Homo sapiens: one gene and its partner. The protein of the gene in region 1 purifies or fractionates together with the protein of each later gene. This does not show direct contact. Each region holds a gene or a part of one and is shown on either strand. Other genes may lie near its edges. The genes, in order: NRGN and TRIM62.

The links.
Region 2: the proteins of NRGN (region 1) and TRIM62 purify together in Homo sapiens (affinity purification with mass spectrometry; 2 studies listed by BioGRID and IntAct, with this or other methods). This does not show direct contact.

What each region holds. Positions count from the first base shown.
Region 1 is NC_000011.10:124,728,030-124,744,679, reverse strand, and holds the start of NRGN (neurogranin), read right to left. Parts: upstream 4,739-16,650; 5' UTR 4,596-4,738; coding exon 4,581-4,595; intron 419-4,580; exon of another isoform or gene 1-418.
Region 2 is NC_000001.11:33,173,026-33,189,291, forward strand, and holds the start of TRIM62 (E3 ubiquitin-protein ligase TRIM62), read right to left. Parts: upstream 9,019-16,266; 5' UTR 8,408-9,018; coding exon 8,000-8,407; intron 3,526-7,999; exon of another isoform or gene 3,428-3,525; coding exon of another isoform or gene 3,383-3,427; intron 1-3,382. UniProt on the Homo sapiens protein: E3 ubiquitin ligase that plays a role in antifungal immunity by mediating 'Lys-27'-linked ubiquitination of CARD9 downstream of C-type lectin receptors; leading to CARD9 activation, followed by activation of NF-kappa-B and MAP kinase p38 pathways.

The DNA of each region.
Region 1 (16,650 bases):
CATTATTTTATTTAGTCCCCCAAAATAAAGCTATTACGTACCTTTTTATCATTACCCCTAATAAAACTAATGATTAGACTGTTTAAAAACCTACCTGGGTCATACGGACAGTTACCAGTGGACCCAAGATTCAAACCTTTGTATTTCAGAGTCCAGAATATATATTTTTACCCCTACTTTGTAGGATAAGAAAATGCAGCCCAGTCAACCAGCCAAGGTCTACCATTTGCTATAGGTGTGTGGCCTTCGGCAAGTTATCTAATCTTTTCCTATCTCAGCTCCTTCCTCTAAAATATCAGGATAATGGTATCCACCTCTATGGGTCGTGGGGAAGAATAAACAGCATGATATGCATAAAGTCTCTTGCACAACCTAGCTGCTCAATAAATGGTAGCTTTTATGCTTGTCTTAAAAATAACATTAAGTTAATGTGAAATAGTCATTTTTGTAGGCCAAAAGTGGTCATATAATAACAATTTCATATGGTTCAACCTAATAATAATCAGGCCCACCTCTATGCCCCAAACTAGGTTTCTGCTTCTCTGACAGCCTGCCCTGGCTGAAAGTAGAAGGCGTGAGGGGATTGATGGTATAGATTGCAGAGGAAAGGCTATGGAACGGAGAGGAATTCAGCCTCTGAGCCCTTTTGTTGCATTAACATTACTTGCAGTATTAGTGTGGGTCAGGATGGGGATGGTTACTATGAAGTTAGAAGGACATTTCTCCTTTGATCTGGCTCACTGGCTTCTAGGAATTTGCCTCCTTCTTTTTTTTTTTCTTTTCATGAAGTCTTCCACTGCTTTGACTATCTTTTTCTTCTAGGACACGAGATGACCAAGGTTTCACATAATAATGGTAATTCAGTTCTGCACATTAGCTCTCCCTGCCATCATCCATCCGGTTCATAGAAGTGGACAGGATATGAGGAAGGCTTCAGTGATCACTGTCCTAGCCAGATTCTGCCCCAGGACCACAAGCTTAAACTCCAGATGCCCAAGCCCCGGCTTATAAATGGTTCCCCTCGCCATGTTTCCCAAGGTTAGCCTCATTTCCTGGGCTTCACATTCTTCAATTCGTGCTCAAGATGCCCATAATCGATTTAAACACAGTTAAAAGGAGTTACATTTTGGTAGAAGAGTCAAAAAAACAGAAAGAAAAAAAGAGTTACAAAAAGGCAGGTATGGTTGTGGAAAGGCCAAACACAGGTCTAGGGTGCTCAGAAAAGACTCCTTTGGAATGTTTTATTCTTAGAGCTCAAGTCTTTCTTGGGATATCCTCAGGGAACAGTGAGGCTTCTTCTCAAGAGGGTGACAACCATAAAAAAGCATTCCTGACCTACCTTTCCTCCTTGGCCTCGCAGCTGTGGAGGAGTGGGAAGGTTGAGTGGAGGAAGGGATATCTGCCTCCAACCACGCTAGACCCGACCTGCTGTCACCGCCCGCCCCAGCTGGATCCAGAATGGAAACCTGGAATAGCAGGCAAAGCCACCCCCGACACTCCATGTTCCTCCCCAGAACCAGCTCCCTCTCCTACCAGCTGAATTTTCAGGACAGAGCTGCCAGGTGGCCAGTCCACAGGTGGAAGTGGAAGGAGATTGAAAGGACCTGGGAAGAGGTTCATTGGTCATGGTGCCTGGCTGGTGCTTTCCAAAGCCAAGGTTGCTGGTGTGTGCCTGACAGTTCCATAGGAAGTAGGGACTTCTGGGAGGGAGGAGGAGGTGGAAGGTGCCCTGGTCAGCAAAGTGGGGTCCAAGCCTTCTAGTCCCAACTGGGCACATCACTTCATCTCTGAGAGTCTCATTTTCTTCAGCCACAACTAATGAACAAAGTCTCCTTCAGCTCCCAAATCCGAATAGCTTTAAGGATATCCCCTGCTTGCTGCTTGTTATTATGTCAGGCCCTGTGCTAAGCGCTTTGCATATATTACCTCATTTAATCCCCATTTTGGAAGTCAGGAAACAGCCTCTGAGACATTTTGTAACTTAGCTAAGGTCACTCAGTTGACAAATAGTGAAGTGATGGGATTCAGTAGCCTCTGCTGCTAGCCACTGCCTCAGGGCAGGTAATTATTTCTATGAATTCAGCAGGGCCAAGCCAACTAGACTAAGCAAAAGAAATGAGGATCCAAAAAAATTCATGCGCTTTTTCATGCGCGGTGAATGCAGGAAAAGTCATATATATATATGGCTATGTAAATCAGCAACTGCAATATTTGAATCAGCATGAATAAAAAACCATTCCTCTGTCTCTTAAAAAAATAGGCAGATCTGTTTTCTTCTTCCTCATTTCTATCTGAGCCTCTGTACCAAGGAGAAACGGGAATAAGACAGGACTAGATTCTTCCCAAACACCAGGTGATGCGGTCAGTGAGGAGAGCTCCAGAATCAAAAGATGAAGAAGGACCTGCCTCTAGCCCCCAAGAGGTATGCTGTTCTTCCCACACATCTCAGCTCTCTCCCAGCACTGAGTCCAGCCCTCCACAGAAAGGGGAGGAAAATGCCCACCCCTAGCCCTGCCCTTCCCCAACCCTCCACACATCACTCCTTCTTCTTCCTGCCCTCCTGCACAGTCTGATAATGGTGCTCTCTCTTGCTCAGCCCTTTAGCCCTGCAGACCTAGGACAGGGCATGACTTGGGAAGGCTCCTGTGCACAGGGTGCACTGGAGGAGGTGCCCCAGGCCCTGGGCCATGGAGATAATTGTGTATCTGCTTCTCTTTTACCTTTTGGGTGGGTAGCCTCTCCTTTTTTAAGGGACACTGACTTCAACCATGTCTACTAATCCCTCAGTATGGCTCCCTGGGCACTCAAGAGCAACAGTTCCAGGCAGGGACCCCCACATCCTACTCTAATTACTACTGCAGACACAGAGGAGACCAATTCCATTCCTTCCCTGGCCTCTTGGATTCTTTGTTTACTCACCTCTTTCCAGTGACCACGTCTCCCACTTCCCCTTCCCCAGCAATACTCCCCTGTCATCCTCACCTCTCCCCTCCCCCCAGCTCATTTCCCAGAACCCACCATCCATTTATCTTCTCTACTTTATACAACACTGCTGGGAGGAAGGGCTCTTCCTCAGTGGAGCCCAGGAACCTCCATGAGGAGCCCATTTCTCCCTTCACAACCAAAAAATTGCTTCCTGTAGAATAACAAGCAGAGGGAAAAGGCTGGAAGGAGATATGTTATCGGGGTGTTCTCCAGGGGGTGGGACTGTAGGTGACTGACATGTTTGTTTTTCATACTTTTCTCTAGGTTTTACGTTTTCTATTATGAGCAGATTACTTTTATAATCAGTAAATATTTAGAGGAGAGGTTAAACCACAGCTCTTCGAAGAAGACAGGGCTATGTTTGAATCCTGCCTCCACAGTTAGGAGTCATGCTTCCTTGGAAAAATCTAACTTTCTAAACCTCAGTTGGCACATCTGTGAAATAATACCTACTTCACAGGGTTGTTGCTATGATTAAATATAAAGTGCTGGCTACAGGGCAGGCATTCACAAACTGGCAACTATTACTTAAACTAATAAGAGTTAAAATCGCAACCACCACCACTTGCCCCTAAGTGTTCTCTGCCTCTTGGTACCCAGACATGGGAAAGTCTCACCTATTATAGAACTGGGCTATCCTTCCCTTCCAAAGCCCACTTTTTTTTTCTTTACTATGCCATAAGGTGGCAAAGTCAGTAACCTCGTGTATCATTAGCTGGTTGACTGAATGACTGAAAATACAAGGACTTTGGAATAGTCTTTCTCCAAGTGCAGAGGCAAAAAATAAATAAGCAAACAAATAAATTTCATATACGTATGATCACTGTACTCTTCCAGTGAGGCAGGAGCCAGGGCCTATGCCAGGCGCTTTCATACCGAGTCACCTTTACAGCAAACCCCTCGGGCGCTGGGCACTTGCAGTACCCAGGTTTCCGCGTGGGCGCTGACAAATTGCAGACACTTCCTTTCCTCGCCAGCAGGGCTCTCTCGCGGTCACTTCACCCAGCCCCTTCCGAGCGAGAAGGCCTTGGGGGCCGGGACAACCCCTCCCCAGAACCACCCTGACTAGGCTCTTTGCAGCCAGCATCACTACCGAGCTAACCAATATGGACCAGCCTGCGCTGCACAGGGCGCTTAGGCGATCGTTGGAGGGTCATGAGGATCAGCCTGTCCGCCCACCGACGGCGGCGCAGTGGGATGGGGAACGGGGTGGGGGCCGAAAGACGGGAGGAAGGAGTCGCTGCAGTGTCTCCAGGCGATGGTTGCCAGCGTCTCACTGGGGAGGAAGTTCCTCCTGTCATCCAACCCGCAGTTCCCCTCTTGCAGAGCCCTGCCGAGCTCCCAGTCCAGCCTAGGCTGTCTAACGGATGGGCGCTCAGACGCCCCCGCGAGTTGAGGAGCATTTTTCCTAGGGCTTCCAAGTCGGGCGGGCGCCTTCCACCATCCACCACCCACGTCTCGGCAAGGACCCCTTTTCTTTCTGCTCCTAGGTCTTCCGCATCCACTTCCATCCCTCTCTCGCCCTCCAGGGCTTTCTCAGGCGCCTCTCGCAGCGGACCCCGCCAAGTGCCCCTCCCCCGGGCCCTCTAACTTACGGTGCAGCAGTCCATGCTGGTGTCGGGGGGTCCTCTGCGGGGACGAAGGCTGGCGCAGGGCGGGGGTGGGGTCTGTGTGGTGCCGGGTGGGGGCTCTGGGGCAGTCGGCCGCCAGCCGACCCGCGCCGAAACAGCAGCTCTGCTCTCGGGTCCGGTCTCCCGCGCTCGGCTCCGCTCGCGAATGTAACCTGAGCCCCGCGGCCGGGAAGCCAATCAGGAGCAGCCTCCGGCAGGGTGGGCGGGGAGAAGTGGAGGGAGGGCCACGCCCTCTCGCGGCTCTCTGCGCCGCGCTCCCGCTCCTGCCCCAGCCCCTCCGCCTACACGCTTGTATCCAAGCCTCCTACACACTCCATCCTCCCGGGCGCAATCCCCTGGCTTGCTAGGCGGCAGACTGCCAGGCAGATGTACGCCGGAGTAGGCAGAAGGAGGCCCCCGACACCCCGAGCACAAACACCCACATCTGGGCACAGCACCTACTCCCGCTCAGAGAAAACCACGCACCCCTCACCCATCCCTCCATACTTCCACAACCTAGCAGGAGTCCCAAATATGGCTCCCTTTCACTTCACTCCCCCTCAGTCCGCAAAGAAAGGCTCCCTAACGGGCGGTAAAAAGGTCTCATCATCACTCCTGCTACAGACGGAGAAACCTGTTGGTACAACCTGGCGATGGGCATGCGTCCACACAAAAGCTCACAAGCCCCACATGTCCACATATGATTTTCCCAGGCCTTCTTCCAGCATACAGACACTGCAGATACAACCTGCAAAAATAACTACGCAGCCCTTCAGTTGCAGGTAAATGCGGACACCCTGTTGCGGGCGCCCGCGCGCTCACGCACGCACACGGACAGTCACCCAACTCAAGCTGTCGGCATGACGTATCTATTATCGATCTGTCTACATGAGCTGCAACAAACAACATCATATATGCACAACACCTATTTTGTATGTATTTATATATGGGCACAGACTTGGAAGAAGTATCCTCCTCCCTTTCATACCAGACTCTGCCTAACCTTTTGATCTGCTGCCTCAGAATAAGACAAAAGCTGGCCATCCTCGCCCTTGCTCCTGAGAAGAAGAAAAATACCCTAAACCCAAGTGTAGAGAATTCGAAGTAATTGGCTCTTGGGTCCATGATGAGGCAGGATGTGGGCTTCGTGAGAGGCTGGGAAGGGGAGCTATGGAAAGAGCATCTGGGAGGGACAGACTGCCACTGTTGTGGTCGTCAGCCTCCCCCAACTCGGCAGGGTACAAAAGCTGGCAGTGTGGCTTGTTATGTGGGTAGGGTAGGCCTTCTCTGAGAAAACTAGAAAGTCTTCTCAGCTAAGGTCCCAGAGAAGGGAAGGAGGAAAGGATGGCTCCTGCTGGGAGCAAAGGTGGGAAATGCCCTGTGGCTCTGGTTGGGACAGCAGATCCTGAGACAGCTCTGCTGTGCATCCCCAGTCCCTGGCCATGACCAGGGACCACGTGGCGGTGACATGCTTCCTTTCCACCTAGATGTTTGGGCCCGAGGCTCTGCTTGCCAAAGGAAAAATGAGTGGGAGAGAAATGCCTGAGTCCATTCAGGGTGGGGATAAGGTTAGCCAGCTTGGGGTCCCAGGCTGAGCTGGATGCTGGCCGGGATTCCAGGGCTTGGGGTGTAGGGGTGTCTCTCCCAGCATGTTTGGGACCCACCCACTTTTGTAAAAAAAAATCTGTTCCCCAATCTGTCTCTGGCACATCTTTCATCTCCCCACCTCCTCCAAGTGGCCAGATGTCCTGGGAACTCAGGCCCTTGCCTAAATGACACGCACATCTGTGGCCTTCTGTTGTGCCAATTCCTGCTGGACTTCAACTCCAGAATCCAGAGAGGAGAGGAAAGGGGGAAATTGGGGGACAGAGTGGATACCAGGCCTAGACTCTGTGCTTTTCTCTTCCCAAATTAGAGCTGAGGAATTCGGGATTTGGTGAGTTTGCAGTCAAGTCTCCCAAGTTGCTAGGCAACATCCCTCTGCAGACTGCGCTGCCTCTGGGCCCTTCTTCCTGCTGGTCAGAACTGAAGGGGGGGTATCTTTACAACACCCCCCCCACCAACTCCCACACAGGCAGCACAGCCCTTCCCTCTTCCTGAAGGACACCTTTGTGTGGGGTGAGGGTGTCTCTGAACACTGGAGGGCCCATAGGAGAACAGATACGGCAACTGTCAGTTCCATCCGCAAAGCAACCATTTCAGCAACAGCCCACTCAAGGCGCCTACGCAGAACTGGCCACAGTGCTGGCCCTGGGGGATGGGCAGGCTCTGAGGTGAGGAAAAGACAGAGAGGAAGGCAGAGCCTGAGATGAGAAGACAGACACTCACAAACTCAAATACCAGTGGCAGGAGCAGTAACACATATGGCCTCATAGAAATTACACACACAGACCCAAAGATGCAGACACACACACTGCCCACACACCCAGAGACACACACCCTGCACGGGTTGTCACCCACTGACATCCAAAGACATGCTCAGCGTGGGCCCCTTAACCACTGTGGGGCCAAGGCACCCACTAGCGCTGGGGAAAGGTCCCTCTTCTGAGCCTCTAGGTGGCTGGGGTTTGTCAGCAAGGTGGGCTGGTGGGACTCAGCCTGTGATACTCAAATAGGTGAGCTAGGACAAAGGACAGATGCAGTAAGGGATGGCTGGGTCTGCCTCTGCAGGCTCTGGTCTTTGGCAGAATGATGCCAAGTTATACTCCCCATGGTAACCTGCCTGGCCTAGGGCCTGGGTGCCACCGGTCAACATTTGGAGTATGACCTACTGTCCAGATGGGCTTGGACTCGTAGTTGTTCTTGACTTTTCAAATTTTAAAGCTTCTCATCTACAGTCTCCAGCCCCCATAGCTACTGAAGGAAAACTGCTGGCCTGGAAAGGAGATGAGCTCTGGAAGGGAATGGCCAGGTTAGGGAGGCAACTGGGGCATGTTGGTGGGTGCCGTGGGATGGAGCCAGCAGGAAGCATGGAGATGACAGGGGTGAGGAATAGAAGCCAAGGCAGGTGAGGGATAGACAAAAGAGAGGATAAAAGATGGATTAGTGGGAAGCTCCTGTGGTCCAATACAGATTCTTCTTGGGACAGATGGAAGGGGATTTGGAGAGGGTTGGTCCTAGTAAGCAGGCAGAAAAGCCAAGGCACGTGACAATCTATTTCCCAATAACTTGTGGCTTCCCCTTCTCGGAGTGGGCACCTTCTGAACTTCACATCCTGGCTCAAGCCCGTGGAGGGACCCATAATCAGAAGGGGGCTAGAAAGTATGAGGCCTGTGTCTTTGGTGGAGCTGATCTGGGGGCTTCTTAGGTCAGGATTTTACCCATTTGAGTGGAGGGGGTGGAGGTAGCAGGAAATTCAGTTTTCTCTGCAAATATTTCAGCTTTTGCTGTTGTAGTATTTTTAGCAACCTGGTTGGCAGAGGAGGAGCCCGGGTACATTTTTAAAGGGGCCTCTGCCAGGCTGGAGGCCTCTTCCCACCCTCACCCCACATGTCAGGAAGGAGAGGGGGAGAAAGCACATGGCTTAAGGGGTCCATTCAAAGGTAGAAATCAGGTTTGCTGGACATTAGGTGACCGTTGAGTCATTTTCACCAGTAGTCATTTTGTTCTGTCATTGTCAGCATCATGATTGTTACCAGCATTATCAAGAGGAGTAAATATTTCTTGAACTTCTGCTATGTTCAGGGTGCTGCTAGAGAGGCAATACGGAAGGCTCGGTATAATATATTTGCTAAGATGGGGAAATAACCAATATTCTAGAGTGAGTTCTAGGCTAAATCTGAATAGCACTTTACAAAGTGCTACCACATCCATTATTTAAAGTGGTGCTCTCGAGAACAGTGTGAGGAGGTATTACTCTTTCTTTCTTTCTTTCTTTCTTTTTCTTTCTTTCTTTTTGAGACAGAGTCACACTCTGTCACCCAGGTTGGAGTGCAGTGGCACAATCTTAAGCAACCTCCACCTCCCAGGTTCAAGCGATTCTCCTGCCTCAGCCTCCTGAGTAGCTGGGATTACAGATGCTCACCACCATGTCAGGCTAATTTTTTTGTATTTTTAGTAGAGACAGGGTTTTGTCATGTTTGCCAGGTTGGTCTCGAACTCCTGGCCTCAAGTGATCTGCCTGCCTCAGCCTCCCAAAGTGCTGAGATTACAGGCATAAGCCACCGTGCCCAGCCTAGGAGGTATTGTTATTTCTAACCTCTTTTTCTGAGGAGGAAACTGAGGCTGGGAGAGGTTAAGTGACTTGCTATTTGTCCAGCATTAGATCTCTGAGGAAATGCAGAACTAGGACTAAAACCCAGGAGTTCTGACTTTGAATTCTGCATTTCTCCTGTACAGTGCTCCTAGCGTAAGCTAAGCAAATCAGACATAATCTCTTTTCTCTTGGATGTTGTAATCCGATGGAAAAAGTACATATATGTGCGTGTATAAAATAATGAATGATAGATACGAAAGGAATTAAGCAGACAGTAAATGTTCTGGGAGTTGAGGTGTGGAAGAAATGACTGAGAATTTGGATGGTCAAGGAAGCCTCCCTGGATGATGGTTTGAAGCAAGCATGAATCCAAAAGTATCTGAGACATGTATCAATCAATTTGGAGAGTTCATTTTGCCAAGGTTAAGGATGCACCTGTTGACACATCTTCAAGAGGTCCAGATGACATGTGCCCAAGGTAGTTGGGTATAAGCTTGCTTTACAAGTTTGTGCAAGGGGTACAGTTTGCTTTTATGCTTTTTAGGGAGACATAATACATCAATCAATACTTGCAAGATGTACCTTGGTTTGATCTGGAAAGGTGGGATAACTTGAAGCTGTGGTGGAGGGTGGTGGCTTCCAGGTTATAGGTAGATTTAAAATTTTTCTGATTGGCAATCAGTTAAAGGAGTTATTATCTAAAGACCTGGAATCAATAGAAAGGAAATGTCTGGCTTACCATGATAAGCAGAGTTTTATCATGCAGACAAAGCCTCCAAGTAGCAGGCTGCAGAGAGAATACATGGTAAATGTTTCTTATCAGACTTAATGTCTGTGTTGATGTTAATGCTGGTCGGCTTTTCCTGAATTCCAAAAGGGAGGAGGGTATAATGAAGCATGTCAGACCCCCTGCCTTCCCATCATGGCCTGAACTAGTTTTCCAGGTTAACTATGGAATGCCCTTGGTTGAGAGGAGGGGTTTGTTCAGATGGCTCAAGGGAGCCTTAGAATTTAATTTTTGGCTTACGCAAAAATACGACTTAGATAAGTGAAGAGGGCCAGGAGTGGGCAGAAGAGCATTTGAGGCAGGAGCAATTGTGAGCTATGCACCACACTTAGTGTCCCTGTGAGTGCATGCCATCCCAGCCCAGAAGGGCCCTGAGGTCAGCAATCCCAGTATCCTTCCTCTTACCCAGGGTTTTATGTCCAAAGCTCAGTGCTCTGAATTCATCTACAGTACCATAGCCCTGCTGCTCCTCAGAGCTCTAATGCACACCTGCCCCTTGCTCCTATAGATGTGCCAGGTGTCTGGATCCTCTGCCTTCATCCCATTTTTTCTAGGTCTCAGATGTAGTTCAAAATCCTGGATGCGGTAGCTCCTTATTCCTATTTTGCTCCAAACACCTACTTGTTCTTACCTTTCCACCTCCCTTTCCTCAGCTTGCTTCCCCACCTCTCCTAATGTGTGAAAGCTCTGATGGCTAAGCAATGTGTGTCCCTGCTGGGCCTGCACATCCTGCCTGCAAACATTAGACCAACACAATTTTTTTTTAATAACAAGGCACCAACCATTTGAATAACAAGCTCTAGAACAAACCTAATAATAAGCATTTCAGTGTTGGTTCAGACAACGACCTGTTTTAATTGATTTCTGCAAAAAGACTTACATGAGATGTAGTTTTTACCTTATTTCTTAGTCTATTTAAAGACGTTTGCTCCTTTTGTGGTTCTGCTGGATAGTCAGATCCAAGAAATTCCTGGTTTAACCAGCAATGCATGCCTGCTGAACCAAATGAGGTTTAAGCCATTCTCCCCAACATTGTCTACCTCTGGGCAGAAGGAAGGGGGAACTCTTATCCAGGAGAGCGATATTCTCTTAAAATCATCCAGAATGAGTGGCTCTTGCCTGCGTGTATGTGGTCAGCATCCCAGGCTCACACTTTTCCATGCTGATGCTCTCTTGGTCTGAGAGCTTGTACTGATTGTTCTAATCTGGATCCACTGGCTATGGCTATGTCATTAATTTGGCATCTAGTATTTATTGCCTCATATTAACACTTAAAAAACTTTTTTATTTTAGAAAAACTTAAACATATGCAAAACTAAATAAAGTAATGAACTCCACTGTACCCATCATCCACATTCAATAATTCTCAACTTATCATCAAACTTATTTAATTCATATGCCTTCTGATTCCCCCATTATCATTTCATTCATAAATATCTAAGTATGTCTCTCTGAAAAATAAGGACCCTTTAATGCTTACTTTTAAAGCATATGTTCATTAGCCTATACGTTCTGTGGGGAAACAGATTAGATTCTGAGGATCCAATGTACAATATGGCAGCTACAGTTAATAACACTATATTGTTTACTCGAAATTTGCTAGGAGAGTAGATCTTAAGTGTGATCAGCACACACACGTACACCAAAAATGGCACCTATGTGTAGTGATGGATGTATTAACTAATGTCATGTGCTAATCATTTCACAAAGTATACATATATTAAATCATCCCACTGTACATTTTGAATATATACAATTTTTATTTGTCAATTATACCTCAATAAAACCTGAAAAATATAAAATGAAGGCTGGGCATGGTGACTCATGCCTGTAATCCCAGCACTTTGGGAAGCTGAGGCAGGCAGATCAATTGAGCCCAGGAGTTTGAGACTAACCTGGGCAACATGGTGAAACCCCATCTCTACAAAAAATACAAAAATTAGCCAGACATGGTGGTGCATGCCTGTAGTCCCAGCTAGTTGGGTGGCTGAGGTGGGGGATCACCTGAGCCTGGGAAGTCAAGCCTGCAGTGAGCTGTGATTGTGCCACTGCACTCCAGCCTGATAGAGCAAGACTCTGTCGAAGAAAGAAAAATACAAAAATGTAAAGAAAAAAATAAAGAAAGAGATGAGAGATGTTTTCTTTACCGCTGTAGCCTTAGCACAATATCCAGAACATAGTGGATATTCAATAAATAGTTTTTGAATAATTGAATGAATAAGGCGGAGAATGAAAGAATGTATGTCAGAGGAAGCAAGCAGTAAAGAAAAGTATATTGCTGTGGTCAGGCATGACCTTCTTTGCAGCAGGTCATGATTCTGTTAGAGGTCCAGGTATGTCTTCAGCAACAACTAAGAAGTTAGGCCTTAAATAGGGAGGCAACTCTTCATCTCTCTGAGATTTGGTGCTGGGGCTTCCATTTTGAGGAGTGGAGACAGAGAGAAAGTTGATGCTGAGGTGGCCTCTTTTGGGGAGCAGTTGGGAGATAGAACAAGACTGGGCCTGAAAGCCAGGAAGGAGCCACGTCTGTTCCAATGTATCTGGTTTAATGTCACTCTCTGTCTAGTTCCATTTTATTATTTCCTTCCTTTAACTTGGTTAAGCAATTCTACTTTGTCTTAGCTGTGTGAGGGGACATTCAAAGAAGAGTTATATACTTGGCCTTGGGCCAGAGAGGCCAGGGTGGGGCAGTCAGCTTGGTGGCAGCAGTCCTTACGGAGGCATCACAAGAGGAAGCGACTTTAAGCCTTCATGGCCTTAGTGTCCTGTCGCAATGCAGGGATTTGTTTCCAGTGCTAATCTTGGAGGGTTTTATTTTTATTTAAAAAGAGGAGACATTTCTTTCATTGGGTGGTCTGACATAGCAGATCCCAATTGCTTAAATAAGCTCACAGGCTAATGACTTCTACCTATCAGGTCAAAGCGGCAGCCTGTGGGGTAGACGAAGACCACCTTTTCACTGCTGTTTATGAGGAATTAAGGGCCTAACACCTATCATCTCTAAACCAATCCAAGTCAGCCATCTGGCTGAAGATGGTGTTACCAATAATCATCTTCTACTGAGTTTTCATATGAGCTTCTCATATAAGTGTTGGCATGTTCTGAAGTTTTAGACTTCAGAAGAAAGAAGACATTGACAGGATTGTTCCAGTGGACTGTCGTCCGCTATGGCCAAGATACAGATGAGCAGATATTACAAGTCAGCCATTGCAAGGCCTGGGTGGCAGGCCATGTGCAAGCCAAGGCTTCTTCAAGGGTATACCCAAAGTGAAAGATACTTCACATAGCCCTGGACTTGGATCATGACACAGGAATTGGTTATATGAACAAATGTCTTTCTTTATGTAAAAATGAGAGTTCTCTTACCCAGATAAGCCCTGGCTCTAATCTTGGAAAATGATGATTATTTTGACTTTTCTTTTTCTTTTTGGTCAGACTGAAGCATTGAAAGGTAAAGGATTATTAACTACAAGTTTTTGCTATTCTGTAGTTTGGGTGGGACATTTAAGTTAAATGAGATAAGTAGCGATAGTTATTTGGGTTGCTGTATTTGTGTTATTTTTGCTTTGCCTTCATGGGATTGTGTGTTGGAGTGGGGTGACTGAGGGGAGAGCTGGGACGTGAGCTGTTTTTGGATTGGGTTGTTAGTGGAAATGTTTTCTCTGCTTAGAGAAAAGGCATGTTTAGAGAGAAGGAAATGAAAGTAAAAACCACACTTCATTTTGACTTAGGATAACTTTTCCATGGATGTTCAGTGTTCATATATACCTAGTAGAGAGAGTCAAAGGTTTGTACTGGATACAATCCTATCTAGTAGATGTTCTTCAAAAGAGGAAGAATATAAAGCTTGATCCTTAAAGGAGAGACAATATTGCTGTTTTTTTGTTTGTTTGTTTTTAATCTGGAGTCTCACTCTGTCACTCAGTTTGGAGTGCAGTGGTGAGATCTCAGCTCAGTGCAACCTCTGCCTCCCAGCTTCAAAGCGATTCTCCTGCCTCAGCCTCCTGAGTAGCTGTCACCTGCCACCACTCCTGGCTCATTTTTGTATTTTTAGTAGAGATGGGGTTTCACCATGTTGGCCAGGCTGGTCTTGAACTCCTGACCTCAAGTGATCCACTTGCCTCGGCCTCTTAAAGTGCTGGGATTACAGGTGTGAGCCACTGTGTCCAGCCTGAAGAAGAGAAAACACTTTCTGTTCCACTGGAACAGGATGGTGGAGCTATGCTACTTTACTATTTGCTGAACACATGTCAGATCATGACAGCAAGAAGGTCCTGCACTTGGGATAATAAGTGGGGCTGTGTAGACTGTAACGAAACCATCATGGCAGACACCGTTGCTTACCTAGTCAATATCCATGCAGTCCCTCTTCTTGCTTGATAATGCAACTGCAGTTTTGTTGGGGTGGTTGTGGATCCAGACATGACAACGGGTCATAGTCTAAGCCTGTTTAGGGCTAGTCATGAGACACAGATATAGCCAATGAGATACAAGCCAATTTCTGCTGAGGAATCTGAAAAAGCTCCTACTTCCCAGATAGGAGAGGGCAGATAGTACTACCAGCCCCTGTTTCTTATTCCCTCAAAGCAGAGCTGAAGTCTGGAGCTGTATCAGCTGTCTTATGACCATGAAGCAAAATGTCAACATGATAAAATCATGAGGGAAAAAAACCCTCATAATCCCATAGACTTAAGCCACTATCATTCAGTCTTTCTATAATAATATGTATAATATGTATATAATATGTATAATATGTATATGTATATTCAGTCTTTCTATAATATAATATAGTAATTCTATATGAATAAGGCTGGGCTCAGTGGCTCATGCCTGTAATCCCAGCACTTGGGAGGCTGAGGCAGGCAAATCACTTGAGGTCAGGAGTTCAAGACCAGCTTGGCCAACATGGTGAAACCCTGTCTCTACCAAAAATAGAAAAATTAGCCAAGTATGGTGGCAGGTGCTTGTAATCCCAGCTACTCAGGAGGCTGACACAGGAGAATCACTTGAACACAGGAGGCAAAGGTTGCAGTGAGTTGAGATTGTGCCACTGCACTCCAGCCTGGGAGACAGAGCCTGGGGGACAGAGAGCAGTTTTTTTGTCTCAAAAAAACAAAAAACAGATTTAAGTGAACGAATCCCTAATATGCCACAATAATATAAGAGATGTTCGAATGCATCAGATCAATGCACCTATCTTTTTGACAAGATGGGGACAGCATGTGGAAGTTGTTTCCAGGGATTCTTTGATAACAGACCCTGAAATGTCTAAGTTGGGATGCCTTGTAATTCAGACATAAATTTATGCAATCTTATGCAACCTTGATTTCCTAATGGGTTGTTCTAGCTTGGCTTTGCTTAGCCGAAAGAACCATTGCAGGATTCCAAGTGACTGTTTGTTGTTCCCGTAGTCACACTCAAGCCTTTGTCCCCAGTCTCTCTCATTATTTCTATCATGTCAACCTCTCCCAGTTGTCCCATGTCTGGAGTATGGGCTTGCTATAATTTGAATTACTAGTAACTAAGGAAAATTCCTTTAAGACAAAGATACCCAGAGATAGATGAGGACTGGATGGGTTTAGGCATTTTATCTCTTAGCCAAAAGGCCGATGTATATTGGTTTTAAAAAAGTGATAGGCGGTAGGCCCTTACTCCCTTATGAATGGCAGTGGCTGGCTGGTCCTCATTCCATCCAACTGGCCACTGGTTTGGCCTGGTAGGCAGCAGTCATTAATCCATGAACTTAGTCAAGGGAATTAGGATCAACCATGTCAGACAACCCAGTGAGGAATCTTCTCTTTTCTTTCAATGAAAACAAAACCCTCCAAGGTTAGCACTGAGAGAAGATTGATTAAAGGCAGAGTGAATGTTCATCTAGAGTCCCTCATTTGTGAAGCCTTTGGAGCTCCTTTGGGGAGTGGCGCCCGTTCTCTGCTGTTCCTGCAGACAGCACTCGGTAGTCCATAACAGATGCCAATCTAGTTATTCGGATATTCTGAAAGATTAGTTAGATACCCTTAGGACAAGGACTCCCTAAAAGTTCTTGTCTCCCTTAAAATGAGTATTATTTACTTTTAATTATTAGATGGAAATGGCTTATACTGAAAAGCAGAAACCTCTGGGACACTGGTAGGGCACTTCTTTTTATTATACATTTTTATTATTGTAAACCAATGTATATATACATATATACAAGGGCTTAAAAATTTATTTTAGGCTGGGCACTGTGGCTCACACCTGTAATCCCAGCACTTTGGGAGGGCAAGGCAGAAGAACTGCTTCAGCCCAGGAGTTCCAGATCGGCCTGGGCAACACAGTGAGACCCTGTATTTACAAAAAACGAAAATTAGCTGGGCATGGTGGCACACACCTGTGATCCCAGCTACTCAGAAGGCTGCGGCAGGAGGATGGCTTGAGCCCAAAAGTTCAAGGCTGCAGTGAGCTAGGGTCGCACCATTGCACTCTAGCCTGGGCAACAGAGTGAGACCCTGCCTCTAAAAATAGAAAAATAAAAAGAATTTATCTTAAATTAAAGCAAAGATTCTATAAATCTAGAAGGTCTTAAACCATTTTCCAGGGAGCACTTTCTGTGCCAAATCTTTATTATGAGCATTTATTATGTGCCATCTGCTTTGTACTAAGTGCATTACATACTGTATTGATCAAGACTCTTTGGGTGGAAAAGGATAGAAACTCAACTTACATTAACATAAGCACTGATTCACTGAAAGGGCAGAGGTGGAGTTCCAGGAATGTAAAATCCTATTAAGACTCTCTTCCTCCCTTTATGTCACTTGTTTCTGCTTCCTTCTGCATAATGCTGACATCTCCATCATGCTGGAACCGTGGCTGCAGGCAGCTCTGAACTTAAGCCATTATAGCCTTGGGACTAAGGAAGAAATAGAATTCTTCAATTGCAACCTCATTAATAATAATTGTAAAATTCCCAGAGGAGATCGCTGATAAACCAGATTTGAGCCTTATGCCTATCCTAGCACTAACCCTTGTGGCTAGGTGAGGGAAGTATTATAATTGACCCAGCCTGTGGCACAACCGTGTGGCCAGTTGGATTC
Region 2 (16,266 bases), on another chromosome or scaffold:
TCTCTCTTTCCCTCTCTGACCCAAGGATGCCAGAAACCTGACCGTGACAAACTTGAACTTGCCTCTCCCTTTCCTCCCCCAACCCCAATCCTTCATCTATACCTAGAACCGGATGCTCCTGGTCCTCCCAACAGACTGGAATTATTTTATATCTTTGAGCCCCAACCCTCCCTGTGCACTTCTGAGCCACACAATCTCTGGCAACATCTGGCCAGTCCCTGCTTCTAGGGTCTCCCACCAGCTCCCCTGGCACACTGCCCCACAGTGCTTGGTCCATAATGCAGACCTGGCCGGGCTGCACTTGCCTGCTCACATTTGTTTCTGGCTTCCTAGCATGTTAAGTAAGGATCAAGCTCAATGGGTGCGTGCATGTGTGTGTGTGAGCTTGTGTGCGCATGCATGTGTATGTGTGTATGTGTGTGTGTGCATGTATGTGCACATTCAAGCATTCAAAGCCCTTCCTGAGCTGGTCAAGCCTTGCTTTTCCATTCTTACCTCCTCCTGCCACACCCTCCCCTCTAGCCACAACGAACCACCTGAACACATGTGTGCTCACCTCCATGCCTGTCCCTGGTCACACTCAGATAACCTGAGTTCAAGTTTCAGCTTCAGGGACACTTAGTGGTTTTCTGACCTTAAGCACAGTTTCTTTCTTTTTTTTTTTTTTCCCTAATTAAAAAAAATTTTTTTAGAGACAAGGGCTCACTCTATCACCTAGGCTGAAGTGCAGTGGTGCAATCATAGCTCACTATAGCCTCAAACTCCTGGGGCTCAAGTAATCCTCCTGCCTCAGCCTCCCAAGTACCTCACACTACAGGCATGCATCATGCCTGGATAATTTTTAAAAATTTATTGTAGAGATGGGGTCTCTCTGTGTTGCCCAGGATGGTCTCGAACTCCTAGCTTCTGGCCTCAAATGATCCTCCCACCTTGGCCTCCCAAGAGCTGGGATTAGAAGCATAAGCCACTGTGCTTAGCCTCTTTTTAAAAAAAATTTTATTGAGGTAAAATATACATATATACCTTATCATCTTTACCATTTTTAGGTGTACAATTCAGAGGTAGTAAATACATTTATATTCTTTTCCCCCCTTTCTTCTTCCCCCTTCTTCTCCCTTCTCCCTTTCCAGGCCCTTAGGCACAGTTTCTGTTTTTCCTTTTTGGTTTTTTGAGACAGGGTCTCACTCTGTTGCCCAGGCTGGCTGTAGTGCAGTGGCACCATCACAGCTCACTGCAGTTTCAACCTCCTGGGCTCAAGTGATCCTCCCACCTCAGCCTCCCAAATAGCTGGGACTACAGGTGCATGAAACCATGCCCAGCTAATTTTTTTGCATTTTTTATAGAGATAGGGTTTTGCCATGTTGCCCACACTGGTCTCGAACTTCTGGGCTCAAGCAATCCTCTTGCCTTGACCTCTCAAAGTACTGGAGTTACAGGTGTGAGCTACTGTGCCCAGCTAGGCACAGTTTCTGAGCCTCAGTTTCTCCATTTATAAAATGGGGCAATGAGATCCATCTCATAGGGTTACTGTTAGAATTAAATGAGAGGTAGGCTGGGGGAGAGAGAGAGAAGGAGAGCATGACTGCCTGTCAAAGCCTTGAACCCAGTCCGTGGAACAATCTGCACCAGGCTGTGCATGTTTTTGTTCCCTCTGTCCATAACATCTTTCTTTCTGCTCCCTGGCCTGAAGTACTCAGCGTATCTTTTAGGATTCAGCTCAACAGAGCAAGCCTCAGTTACAGCAACCTACCAGTTTATGGGCCTATCTTTCGGGACCACACAGGGCCAGGTCTTGTGTAGTTCTCTCCTGGGCCCAACACAGGGCTGGCCCTCTGTAGCCATGGCACAGATACTGGCTAAAGAAATTATGTGTGTGTGTGTATATATATATATACACACACACACATACATATATGTGTGTATATATATATATATATATATATACACACATATACATATATATGCACACACACATGTATGTATATGTATATGTATATGTATATGTTTATGTATATGTATATGTATTTTTTTTAAGATGGAGTCTCACTCTGTCACCCAGGCTGGAGAGTAGTGGAATAATCTCAGCTCACTGCAACCTCTGCCTCCCGGTTCAAGCGATTCTCGTGCCTCAGCCTCCCGAGTAGCTGGGATTATAGGTGTGTGCCACGAATGCCCAGCTAATTTTTTTTTTTTTTGTATTTTTAGTAGAGATGGGGGTTTCATAATGTTGGCCAGGCTGATCTCAAACTCAGGTGATCCGCCTGCCTTGGCCTCCTGAAGTGCTGGGATTACAGGCGTGGGCCACTGCGCCCAGCCCAGAAATTATTAAAGGAATCCCTGAATCCAAGACAGAACTCACCTCCAAATCTGCCTCATCCCTCTGAGTGTTCAAGCAGAGATGGAGGTCAGGAAGGTAAATGGTACTGGGAAAACAACACTGGACTGAGTCGGGAGAGCTGAGCTCTGGTCTAACCCTGGGCAAGGCAGTTTCCCCATCTGCAAAATGGGGAGCGTGTCAACCAGATGGTTTCTCAGGTTCCTCCCCATTTGGTGCTCCCTGGGACAGTTGGCGTGTTGGGAAGGAGGGTGAATTCTGAGTCAGAAAGACCACTTTGAATCTCAGCTCTTCCTCCTACTTGCAGTGTGATCTTGGGAAGGTTACTGAATCTCTCAGCCTCATTTTCTTCATCTGTGAGATGGTACTGATCTCAGTCCCACTCAGGGAGTAGGGAACGAAAAAATCCTTGTGAGAATCAAATGCCTATAACACAGCACCTGGCACACAGTAAGTGCCCCATAACTTACTTTGTGCCTCCAAAACTTGGGCTATAATTTTATAGAGTCATTGTTTCATCATTGTTAGTCCCTACCAGGTCTTTTTTCTTTCTATAAAATAAACATCTTGGGGTCCCCAATGTTGGCCCTAAGCTTCTACACTGTGGCCCGTGCTCAGCAAAGGTATCCTGGCTGCCCAGACACCTGTGAAGAGGGATGTGGAGATGCCAGCGGCCAGCTCTGAGTTTGACCCACAGCCAGCTTTGCCCTCACAGAGGCTGCTGTTGGCATAGAAATCCTGCCCTCTCCTTGGAAAAGTAACAGCAGAGCCACTTCCCCACAACACAGACAACCCAGCTGCCTTCCTGTCCATGCTACAAAATAAAGTGCCTCTGAATCTCTCATTTCTTTGGATATTTAGCAACTCTTTCTCTCTCTTTATACAGAAAGCAGGAGGGCTAGTTCTTACTTCCATTTCTCAGATTGGGTAAGAGGGTGTCACCCCCTCTCCTGGAAGAAACCAGAGCCGAAATTTGAACCTAGCCCCCAGCCCCCTCCCTCCTTGGGTGGCTGCCTTGGTGTCACTGGATCACCATACCCTGCCTACCAGGGCTTGCGTCCAAGGCTGATCCACTGCTGTCTTCTCTGGCATGAAGGAAGCCTTGGGAAGGGCTCCAATGGTCACATGAGGCCTGGAGGGGGCGGCTGAGACTGAATCGGATCCCCTCTCTGGGGGTTAGGAACCTGAGACGGCCAGAGAGCCGGATGCCACGTCTGCTCTGACCAAGATGACGTCCCAACCACCTGCCCTCGGGGCGTCAGCTGGCACAGATGGCCTAGCCCTGTCAATACAGGACAGGCAGGGTGGCTGGGAGACAATTACCCAGCCCTCAGAGGTAGCTCAGGGACGGTATGTGGCCTAGTCAGACTGGCTTCCAATCCTGGCCCTGCCATTTACCAGCTGCGTGACCAAATGAGTCACTTAATTCCTCTGAGTCTGTTTCTTCATCAGTAGAAGAAATAGATAACAATACCCATCCCACAGGGTGCTATGAAGATTAAATGAGGTAATGCAAGAAAAGCCCTTAGTGCAGTCCCAGGCATTCAGACTGGGCTCGATGAATATTGGCTGAGAAGCCCTGAACTCTTTGGAAATGGGCTCCTTCCCTCCACTTTGCTCAGTGGTCCAGGTACTCAGCAGTGGAGGTGGGGAGGAAGACACCAACACACATACACATGCACACACACACGCACACACACACACATGCACACACACACATGCATGCACAAATGCACACACATGCACACACACATGCATGTACGCATGCACACACACGCACATGCACACCCACAGGTTACATAAAAATCCTTAGAACTGTATAGTAACTCCTGCCATGTTTCATGGGGTATTATTATGGGGGGACTTTAACTTTTACATTATACAGCTCTGCTTCTTATGTTAATTTTATAATCAGAATAAAGACATTTAAAAATAGTTTTGGGGTGCCTACTATGCCAGGCACAGTACTAGGCACTTCTGATAAAGGATCCCTAACCCTTACAACATCCTTCCCAGGAACATCATATCCTCTTGTTATAGATGAACCTTAGAGAAGGAGCCTTAGAGAAGCAAAGTGACGTGACCAAGGACACACAGCATGTCAGGATCTGACCCCTGTGATGTAATCTGGAGTACAAAGCAATTGTGCTTAGTAGGTCAGGGAAGGCTTCACAGAGGAGGTGATATTTGACCTGAAGTTTTAAAGTTCAGTGGGACTTTTCTAGGTCAGGTTTCTCAACTAGAGGTGATTTTGACTCTAGGAGACATTTGTCAATGCTTGGAGATGGTTTTGATTGTCACAACTTGCGGGGTGGGTGGAGTTTGCTACTGGCATCTAATGGGTAGAGGCCAGGAATGCTACCAGACTTCCTATAACACACAAGATGGCCCTGCACAACAGTTATCTAGCCCCAAATGTCAATAATGCCGAGTACGATGTAACCTACTATAGCTGTCATTTATTGAGTGCTGTTAGGTGCCAAGTGCAGTACTAAGTTTTTATAAACATCATCTTGTTTAATCCTAATATAATTACTTCCATGCTGTCCATGAAGGACCCAAGGCTCAGAGATGGTAAATAATCTTCCCAAAGTCACACAGTAAATGGTAGAGCCAGGATTGAGATTACCTGGGTACAAAGCAGGGCTCTTAATTTCTCTGCTCTGATGCCTCAAGGATTTATAATAAATGTAAAAGCTGCACGCCAACTGCTAGGTAGGGTGTTGGGAGACTCCAGCTGAGTATAGGCCCAGCTTCCTCTGGCTTCGAGGCCTTAGGCAAGTTCCCTTCCTCCCTCTCCCTCTCCTGTTTCCCCATCTGTCAAGTGGATGTGGCACCAGATCATCTGCATGGCTCTGAGTCTGTAATTCTGCAGAAGGGCCCCAGCTCCATCAGCTGCTGGGAGAGAAGGGGATGTGAGGGTGGGTTCAGCCTTATTTCTGCTGCATAAATAGCTAATAAGCCTTGCCTTCCCCATATGGAGGGAGAGGCAGGTGGGGTGGAGGGTGCCTTGAATCTCACCCAGCAGCACATCCTCTCTAGATGGGAGGCAGATTTCTCTGCCACCAAATTGCCAAGCCCAGAGGACACACTAAAGCAAGGCCTCCTTCTCGGGCCAGAGAGGAGAGTCTGGGCATTCACTCAGCTGGGCACATGAGCTCTCACAGGCAGAAAGAGAAAAGGTGGGCTGTATGTTATTCCAGCCCGTACTGTGTGCCTTTGAACCTCAAATAGCAGGTTAATCCCAGGTCAGCTTCACAAAAGTCCTGGTAGGAAGGAAGCATCCTGACCCCATTGTACAGACAGAGCATCAGCGTTTACATGAAGTGACTCACCAAGGTGCACACAGTGCCCACAGCAGGTTTGGAACCCAAGTATGTCCAACCCCACAACAGTGCACTAGAGAGTAAGCAAGTGGCAGTCCTGTTTTACTTTTCACCCAATAATGAAGCATTTCAATAATATTTGTAGGTAATACATGTTCAATTTCTCCTGTGTCCCCCAGGTCATGGGATAGAGTACAGAAGCCCAACATACAGTAATTTGGATTTCCTGGTTTGCAGACAGGAGAACCAAGGCTCTGAAGCAGAGGCTAGAAGGTCAGACAAGGAGGGGAGAGATCAGAGAAGAGGGATCTGGGTCAGGCTGTGCCCTATAGCCCTGGCTCTCTCACTGTCTGGAAGTGTGGCCTTGGGCAAGTCACATAACTTCTCCAGGCCTCACTTTCCATTCCTACATGATGAAGAGGTTGGACAGATGGTTTCAGACAGAGTCCCCTCAAACTCTTCCTGCTTATGTGACTCCATAGACGGGGAGATGGACAGCAGCAGCGCCTAAAACGATGGCTCTGGGGGTGGAGGGCCAAGCCTTGTGCAGGCTCCCAGAGGCCCAGGCCCTTGCTCACCCTCTGATGGGGCCTTCATCCTCAGACAGCTAGACTGGAAGGGAGTCAGTTGTAGTTTTGAGATAAAAGGGACAGGGAAGGAGCGATGGTGAACATGGGCCATTTCTCCTGAGGCCCATGGGCATCTGCTGGGTGCAGGCCTACTCAAAGACTAGTGTGTGGAGGGGTTGGGAGCCCCTACAATACAGGGGAAAGTAATTATTTAGTTTCTGTTTGAGTATCTCGAGGCCAGAGAGCTCATTACCTCCCAAGTTAGCCCACTCCATTTTCATAAAATGTTTGAGCCAAAAACCTTCTGCTTCCAAACGCTCCACAGTGTGGTCCAGCTTAGGCCAGGGTTGGTCATTCTTTCGTTCATTCATTTGGCCTTTATTGGTGTGTACTGTGGGCCAGGCCTTGCACCAGGCTTTGGGGCCATAGATAGGAGAAATAAGATTCTGTCTCTGGCCTTGGAGAACTACGTGCTCGACTAGTATCCCAAAGCCAGGTACATGGGGCTGCTGGATTTAAGTGATTTAGCTTGAAAAAAGGATTCCAGGCCCAAGTAAGCTTGGGAACCATTTTATTAAACACAGTAAAATAGATTTATTTGCAACAAAATTTCTCTAAGCTTTTAATATGCAAATGCACACTGAAAATTCTCCAAGGGGGTGGGTATAAAAAATATACTATATTTCCCACACTTATTAATAGAGAGCATTTGGGGAAATGCAGTTCTAATGTTTTTGTTTGTTTGTTTGTTTGTTTGACCAGTGGAACTTGGAGAAGGCTTCACGGAGAGGATATTTGAGCAAGGCTCAATAAAAGTTGAGTAGGAGTTTGTCAGTGAAGACAGGAAGTCTTAAGGGAGACCGATTAGAGTTCTATGCCAACTATGCTCAGGTCACTCTGCATGTACCGTTTCACTTAGTCTTCAAAAGTCCTGATGTGGGGGACAGAGCCAAAGAGGTCATCAAAAACCTCTAGAGACTCCTAGAGGTCTAGCCCCTCCCTTCTTGAATCACCTTACATCTGGGCCTTATTCTCCAAATCTTTACCTTTAAGTCCTGGCCCCACTCAACCTGGCCTCTACTCTGGCTTAAATCTAAACTTGTTGTAGAGTATCCGGACCTGATCTCAGTCTTAACCCCTCATACACCTTGGCCTAACCCTCGGTACTCAAACCTGCCCTCTCAGCACTTTGGCACCCTAACTTATACCACTCTATTAGGTTTCACCCTCACCTGTCCAGCACATTCTAGCCCCCGTACTCCTCTTAGTCCTGATGCACATCTGATCCGGTCTCCGCCCCCACAGAACCCCCAGCCTGCCAGAGCTCAGCTACCCGGTTTAATACAGACCCATCCTCGCGACCTCGCCCTCAGTCTGACAGTGGCCCTGCCTTTGCCCAACTCTGATTCCGGTTCGTCCACAACCCTGCCCCAGCCCAGTATCTGGTCCAGTTCTGATCTCACTTGTTTCCGCCATCCCATCCGCATCCCCGACTTCTCCCTAACCGCGGACCAGCCGGTACTCCAGGTCTGTCTCAGATCCCTCAGGGTCCGGACTGCCCAAGGCCCCGCCCCCACGGCCCCGCCATGCGGCGGCCCCGCCCCTCCCTGCCCCGCGTTACTCCTGATAGGGCCCTGACCTTGCTGGCGGCCCCGCCCCAGGACCATTCTGACTGGGCCTGGCCCGCGGTCCAGCCCTGACCCCACCCCCCGCCCGGCCCCACCTCCAGCCCGGCCCCGCCCCTTCCCCAGGCAGGCCGGGTAGCGCACCTGCAGCTCGTCGAAGGCGTCGTCGATGCCGGTGACCTGATGCTGCTCGTGCAGTGCAGGCTCGTCGCAGAAGAAGCAGAGAAGCGCGCGGTCCGTGAGGCAGAAGAGCTTGACCTTGTCGTGCGCCTGGCAGGGTCGCGCGGCGCGGCGCGCGTTGAGGATGGCGTCCAGCGGGAAGGAGCTGTAGCGCTCCACGATGTTGGCCAGCTTGAGGCTGGGCGCCAGCGCGGGCTCGGCGAACGTGCGCCGGCACTCGGGGCAGTCGCGGGCGCCCTGCGCCTCCTGCCGCACCCAGTGCTCCGTGATGCAGCGGCGGCAGAAGTAATGCTCGCAGCCCAGGCTCACCGGGTCCTGGTAGATGCTCAGGCAGATGGAGCACAGCAGCTCGTCCTTGAGGCTGCACGCCATGGCGCCAGGGGCAGCAGAGAGGGGGGCCCGAGGGGCAGGGGGGCGGCTGAGAGAGCGCGGCGCTGTCGGAGGCAGCACCGAGGGCTGGGCGCGGGGACGAGGCCCGCACAGGCAGGGGTAGGAGCTACCGGAGAAGGGAGGGGGTGCTGTCCGGAAGGAGGGTAACGCGAGGAAGGGGTGCGCGGCTGAGACTCCGTGGGACGCCAGCCCGGGAGGGCAGTCTAGAGGTAGTGGGCAGCTCAAGGCGATGGGCGCTGGGAGGAGGCTGTGAGCGGCTGAGGGACGGAGATCCTGACGGGGAGGTTCTAGGGGGCGGGGCAGTCCTAAGGGATAGGAGCTGGGAGAAGGGGATCCCGGAGCGGGGTGGAGCCCTTAAGGGGGTCGAAATCCCGGGGTGGGGGCGGTGCGGGGAGGGCGAGAAGCTGGGGATGGGGAATCCTGGGGGAGGGGGCAGCCAGGCCGAGCCGTACATTGGCTGTGACCGGCAGAGAAGAGGAGGGGTGCCGGCCCGCTCAGCTGCCGGATCCCGGCCCCAAACCCTGGCCCAGCGCGACCCCTTACCCCCGCGAGCTTAGCAGCCACCGCTTCGGTCCAGCGCAGCCTCTCAACCCGGAACCAGCCGAATCCGAGCTGCCGGTGGCCGCGGCTGCCTCCCCGCCCCCGTGGGCGGGACCCAAGCAACTCCGCCCCCGCAGCGGGCGGGGGAGGGGCGGGGCCACCAGCCGGTTGACCCCGCCCCACCCCCACCATCCTCCAGCTCCCAGGGAAGCGAAGCCCAGCTGTTCCTTCGGGGTGTGTACTTGGAACTGCATCCAGGTCTCGCTTAGGGTCCCCGCGGCGAGGCGGAGCAGCTAATTTGAGAGCACAACAAATAAACAAGGAGCATCTTTCTGGATCATCGATTTGAAGATGTAGAAAAAATCATATTTTGTATTAAAACGAACAAGAATATATTTGGAATACAACTTCTGCATAAAATATAAAGATAAAACTCTTGAAATGCCCTGCTTGCTTAGAGCGAGTTCAAGGCCCTCACACTCCTAAGCCCTGGGGTCCCATTTCCTCTTCACTTTCTTAAGGAGTGCTTGGGGAGAAGTTTGGAAAGCCCTGGCTAACATCTGGCCCCGGAGGCTGCCTCCATTGGCAAACAATTCTGGAGTGCTGTATTTGTGTGTGTGTGTGTGTGTGTGTGTGTGTGTGTGTAAGGCGGTGAGGGGTGGAGCAGGAGAGAGGGAGAAAAAGTAATAGGAGAACTTGTCTTGTGTGCCAGATGGAGAGGGGATAAGGGATTTCTAGGCAGAGGAGACAGCCTGTGCAAAAGCATAGAGGCGTGAAAGGGGAGGGCGCAGTGAAGGAAGTGCTAGTAATTCTGTACTGTTGGGGGTGGGGTGGAGAAGGAGCCTGGGTGGGCTGGAGGGCATTGTGGGTCATGGTAAAGAATTTCTTGAAGGCATGGGGCTTTCAGGCAAGGGAATGACCTGGTCCGATTGGGTTTCAGGAAGTCTTGGAGATAATCATTATACCATCTGCAAGGTGAAGAAGACAGGGAGCTTTTCCAATGTGTCTGCGGATGCACAGCACTCAGCACACAGTAAAGGTGTGTAGCTGAATAACCGCATCAACGCCCTGGGTTGCAGGAGGAAGGAAAGACTGGGCACCCCTAAGGTGCTGTTGTCATCGTGCCTGCAGGAGGTGAGACCCGAACTGGGGCCTCAGCAGTGGGTAAGGAGAGAAGACTAGGGTATTGCAAGTACAGACACGGTGACATTTGGTGATGGTTGGATACGGGGGTGAGGGAAATGAGCCATAGAGGGTGGCTACCAGTTTCTGCCTCCTCCAGAAATATCTTCATTGGTGTTAAACTTTATTGAGGTACAGTTTATGAAAAAGCTCTCAGTTTAGTTCTCTATGGTTAACACTTTCTCCATCACACCCTCATCTGGCCCAGAATCTCCATCATTGCGAGAAAAATAGTTGGTTGCTCATGCAACAGCAGTTTCTCAACATTTTCTTATGGGCAGAGCCCTGATTTTGGTCAGGTGGCCCCCTTCCCCAAGTGACCCAAGGAAGGCTGACCCCAGCCCATTTCCAGGAGTGAGTCTTGTTTGGTCCAAGTCCATTATGGTGGTCTCATGGAGTGAGTCTTGTTTGGTCCAAGTCCATTATGGTGGTCTCATTCCTCTTGCCAGTGACGGTTTGGGCAGGTCCAGCCTGAAAAACTAAAGGGGAAGCCTATGGCAGAGAGGGGTTTTCAGGAAATGGTCTCTTTACTTTGCAAAACAGTCTGCCCCCTTTGCTGGGATATGTTTGGTGGCAATGCTTGGAATTGCAACAGCCATCTTGCTCCCAGTCTGAGGATGCAGCAAATACAGAAGGGAGGGCAAGGCCAAGAGAGTCCTAGGGAAGAGAAGCTTTTATTCTGATGCAGAGTCTGGACTTCAGGATATGTGAGATGGTCCATCTTATTGCATAAGCCAGTTTAACAGTAGTGCATTGTCACTTTGCAACCCAGAGAATCCCAACTGATATACTGACGTGCACCCCTAATGAGGGGGTGGGGAAAGTGAACAGGGCAGAGTCTAAATTATTGAAGCATTTGAAATGAAATGAAAAAAAAAAAGGCTTGATGATGGATGAAACAGTGACTTCATTATTCAACATGTATTTACTGATGCTGACTCCAAGCAGGTCTTTGTGAGGAGGTGGAATAAACTATGCTCCTTGCTCCCAAGGAGCTGGCAGTCTAGAGGGCAAAATCAATGAGAAATTCTTATCAGGCACAGTAGGGCTTGCTAAGCATTCTCACATATATTATTGGATTTCAGTCCCAAAGCAGCCTTAACTAGTTTATATTATTATCCCCGTTTTATAGAGGAAGATACCAAGGCTCAAATAAAGGAGATGTGATGGAAATTGCTAGCTGTCCACTAAACTTCATCCTCCTGTTCTTCTATGTAGTAGAGTAGCAGTCGGAGGAATGGCTGGTCCACTAGAGATCATACATCCCAGCTGTTCTTGCAGCCGAGTGAGACTTGGTGACTAAAATCTTTCTAATAGAACATAAATAGAAATAGACCTTAAGGCATGAAGCTTTTGCTCTCCCATGCTCCATTTTCTCTTCTCTTGAGTTGGAACATAGATGTACCAGGGACACAGCTTCAATAATGCTTCAAAAGGGCTGATGGAGCAAAGATATGGGAGGATCCTGGGTTCCTGAATGACTGCATGAAGTACAGCCACCCTGACATGGACTACAGAGTGAGAAGTAAACTTATTTTCTAAGAGCCATTGTATTTTGGGTCTTTTGTTGCAGCAGCCCAGCTTTCTCCATACTATTTTGCAGCTGTTTTTATTATTTATTTATTTGAGATGGAGTCTCGCTCTGTCACCCTGGCTGGAGCACAGTGGCATGATCTTGGCTCACTGCAACCTCTGCCTCCCAGGTCCAAGTGATTCTCCTATCTCAGCCTCCCTAGTAGCTGGGACTACAGGCGCATACCACCATGCCTGGCTAATTTTTGTATTTTTAGTAAAGACAGGGTTTCACCATATTGGTCAGGCTGGTCTCAAACTCCTGACCTCAGGTCATCCAACCGCCTCTGCCTCCCAAAGTGCTGGGAATACAGGCATGAGCCACTGCGCCCAGCCAATTTTGCAGCTGTTTTTAGAAGAGGCTCTGGTACTATTTTACTCTATTGTCTAAATCCTTTCAGTAGATAGTCTTAATATGTAGGTCTAATCTCCTCCAAAGGACATAGTATGTGGTTTTCTCTGGCTGAAAGTCACAGACTCTTTTTTTTTTCTTTTGAGATGGAGTCTTGCTCTGTTGCCCAGGCTGGAGTGAAGTGGTGCAATCTTGGCTCACTGCAACCTCCACCTCCCAGCCTCAAGCAATTCTTGTGCTTCAGCCTCCCGAGTAGCTGGGATTACAGGTGCCCGCCACCACGCCAAGCTAATTTTTGTATTTTTAGTAGAGAGGGGGTTTCACCATGTTGGCCAGGCTGGTCTCAAACTCCTGACCTCAAGTGATCTGCCTGCCTTGGCCTCCCAGAGTGCTGGGATTATAGGTGTGAGCCACCGTGCCCGACCCAGTCTCTTCTCTTTCACTTTACTTCCCAGTGTTCAGTCCTTTTATCCTCTGAGCAGTTCTTCTCTTGACCTTATTCCATCTCCATTAAGATGCAGAACACTAAAACTGTTGATTATCTTTACATTTGGCAAGTCATTGCTCTCTCCACATCTGATGTGGTTGAGTGGTCTGAACTAAGACTTAGAGATCCTGACTGCAGTGTATGCCATCTGCTTCCATTCATACTCCAGAAATTAACATCAGGAATTTTTTTTTCTGGAAAGCTATCCAAGAGCTATTGTTGAGTGAGAAAAAGAAAAGAAAGACCCAAATACACTGACACATAGACACCCACAGACTTAGACACAATCACAGGCATTATTTGCATAACAAAAATTCTATAGAACTATATTCTAATTGTGTTCTTTTGTGGGCTGGGATTATGGGGGACTTTAACTTTTACATTAGATAGCTCTGTTTATTATATATATTTTTGTAATCAGAAAAAATAAAGAAAATTGATCCTCATTATTTATGGATTCCATATTTGCAAAATCACCTACTTCTAAAATTTATTTGTAACCTTCAAATCAATACTTGAGGCACAATTGCTATTATTTGTGGACATACTTATGTGCAGTGGTGAAAATCTTGACTTACCCACACATATGTTCCCAGCTGAAGGTGAACAAAGGGACACCCTGCCTTCTTGTCTCAGCTGTCATAGTGTAAACAAGTATTCTTTTTGTGACTTATTTGGTGCGAACCGTTCTCATTTTTTGTGCCTTTTTGTTGGTGATTTTGCTATTTAAAATGGCCCCAAGCATTGTGCTGAAGTGCTCTCTGGTGTTCTCAAGCACAAGAAGGCTGTGATGTGCCTTAAGGAGAAAATACGTGTGCTTGATAAGCTTTGTTCAGACATGAGTTACAGTAGTGTTGGCTGTGAGTTCAGTGCTAGTGAATCAACAATTTATATATTAAATAAGGGTCTCTAAGCAGAAACACACATAAAACAAAGTTGTGGCTGGGTCCAGTGGCTCACTCCTGTAATCCCAGCATTTTGGGAGGCTAAGGCAGGAGGATCACCTGAGGTCAGGAGTTTGAGACCAGCCTGGCCAACATGGTGAAACCCCCATCTCTACTAAAAAACAAAAATTAGCTGGGCGTGGTGGCGGGTGCTTGTAATTCCAGCTACTTGTGAGGTTGAGGCACGAGAATCACCTGAACCCAGGAAGTGGAGGTTGCAGTGAGCCAAGATCCCGCCACTGCACTCCAGCCTGGGCGACAGAGCGAGACTCCGTCTCAAAAAAAAAAAAAAAAAAAAGAAATGAGTTCACTCTCTAAATTAGTGCTTCTCAATGCATAGTCCTTGAGCCACATGTGTCTTAGCATGGGTTCTTCCAAGAACTGACCTTAAGATAAGGACTAAAGTGAAAATAGTTTATTTGGGGAGCATAAGTAACACTAATAGGGAAGTGGGAAGGTGATACAGGGAAGGGAAGGCAGCCCCATAAGGGTGCACTATTATCACAAAGGGGAACTGAAGATTTATCCTGCAGGGAAACTCTGGGAAATGGTACAAAACCTCAGAATGATCGATGCCTCAGAAGCATCCCACCCAAAGGGTGAGGGAGCTGGGGTATTTATACACCATGTTTGAGTGTTGAGGCTGCTCCCTGGTGGTGTTTAATTCTTTGGCACTTGTGAACTGTGATGTGTACAGTCAGCTCTCTGTAGTTCTGGGAAAATGATCCCTTAGCTACCATGTGGATGCTGGCAGTTGGAAGTCTTGGGAATACATTGACAGGTTTGAGGGACAATGGCAGGGCATTGACAGTATGTGTCACAGTTCACCCTTGCACCTGCTCAGATAAACTTGCATTCATATTAAGTTTCATGTTCTGTCACTGCTTCTTTGGGTGGTGGAAAGTCACGATTTGTTACAAGAAGAGAGGAGAAGAAGGAAGAGGAAGAGGTAGAAAGGATAACAGATAAGAGGAGGGACAATCTCCAGACCCCACTGCTGTAGTTGGTCCTAAAGTGTAACTGATGCTCAGCTTCCGACTCTACTACCCTTTCTAGATGCCCCTCACCTGGTCCAGCAGGGGTCACTTACTCCTGCCTGTTCAGAATCTCCTTTCTTAGCTTGCTGGTCTGCTGTCATGAGGATCCCAAAATTACCAGAGGCAGATATAATTTTAGGTTTAGTAAAACCACAATTATGTCCTCTGGTAGAAGTGATCTCTCCCTACCCTCTGAGAACTAGGATCTCTGGTTCAACAGAGCCTAAAGCTTTGGCAATAGAAAGCATAAATTTGCCAAGTGGGTCATTGGGAATAAAGGTGAGAGAGGCCACTCATTTCTTGGCTTCCAGACCTATGTATTCTGACTGTTGGGGATGTAGCACCCTTACAATAGCTATTGTCTCAAGTATAGAAATACATGTAAGGGAGGCAGGGTGTGATGGCTCACGCCTGTAATCCCAGCACTTTGGGAGGCCGAGACGGGCAGATCACGAAGTCAGGAGTTTGAGACCAGCCTGACCAACATGGTGAAACCCCGTCTCTACTAAAAATACAAAAATTAGCCGGGGGTGGTGGCGGGTGCCTGTAATCCCAGCTACTCGGGAGGCTGAGGCAAGAGAATCCCTTGAACCCAGGAGGCAGAGGTTGAAGTAAGAGATTGTGCCACTGCACTCCAGCCTGGGCAACAGAATGAGACTTCATCTCAAAACAAACAAACAAACAAACAAACATGTAAGGACAGGTTCTCAACCCTATCTTCAAGCTGATGACTTAGCTATGCCTTCAAGTGGTTATTCCAGCATTTTCTCAGGATGCAGCCCTGGTTGGTATGGTAAATAGCAGGACCAGTGAATAACATGGTCATGTGCTCACTTTCTCCATGGCCATGTTATGGGGGAATGCTTTGATGATAAACTGCACACCCTGGGAACTCTGAGAGAGTGCTGCTGATCATGACATTGTGGACAGAGAAGGCAAATCTGTATCAGTCCCATGAAGTCATAGAAGAGTCACAGCACCTCCAGGGTGGTTGGGTCCAGTGTAATCAACTGGCACCATGTGGCTGGGTGCCCTCCTTGAGGGGTGGTACCATGTCAAGAGCTCAGCCCTGCCTGTGCTTTGACAGATTGGACACTTAGTAGTAATACCTAGGTCAGCCTCGGCCAGAGGAAGCCCATGCTGTTGGGCCATGCGTGGCTTCCATCCCTCTTACCATGGCTTCTCAGTTATGGGTCTGTTGTGCATGCTCTGGGGCAGCTAAGGAGAGAGATAAGCTCATTTCCACTGGATGAATCATCCTATCTAACTGATTGTTCAGCACCTTCTCTGCGATGGACACCCTCTGGTAGACAATGAAATGAGACAGAGACCCACATATTTTTGTGTCTTCTCTCAAAGATCAATCCACATGCTTCTTCCCCAGACCTCCTTAACTGCAATTTTGCAGTCTTGCTCTTCACGAGTCCCTGAGCAATCAGCTGAACTGTTCACTACTGCCTGGGATTCCTGACCTCAGGCCACGACTCTTTCTGCACCAAGTTGATGACTCAATGCACCGCCTAAAGTTCTGCCCCTGCAAAAAATTCTCCACATGGCTGTTCTTCAGGAGCCCTTGAGTGGGACTGTAGTGCAGTAAGAGTGCACTTTTGTTTTCCACCAACCTATTGTGCCAACCTGTCCATAAACCAGGCCTAAGCTTTTTCCTCCTCTGTCACCTGGTCATCAGGAATCTCTCATGATTTCATAAGTGTGAGCTGAGGGGAGAG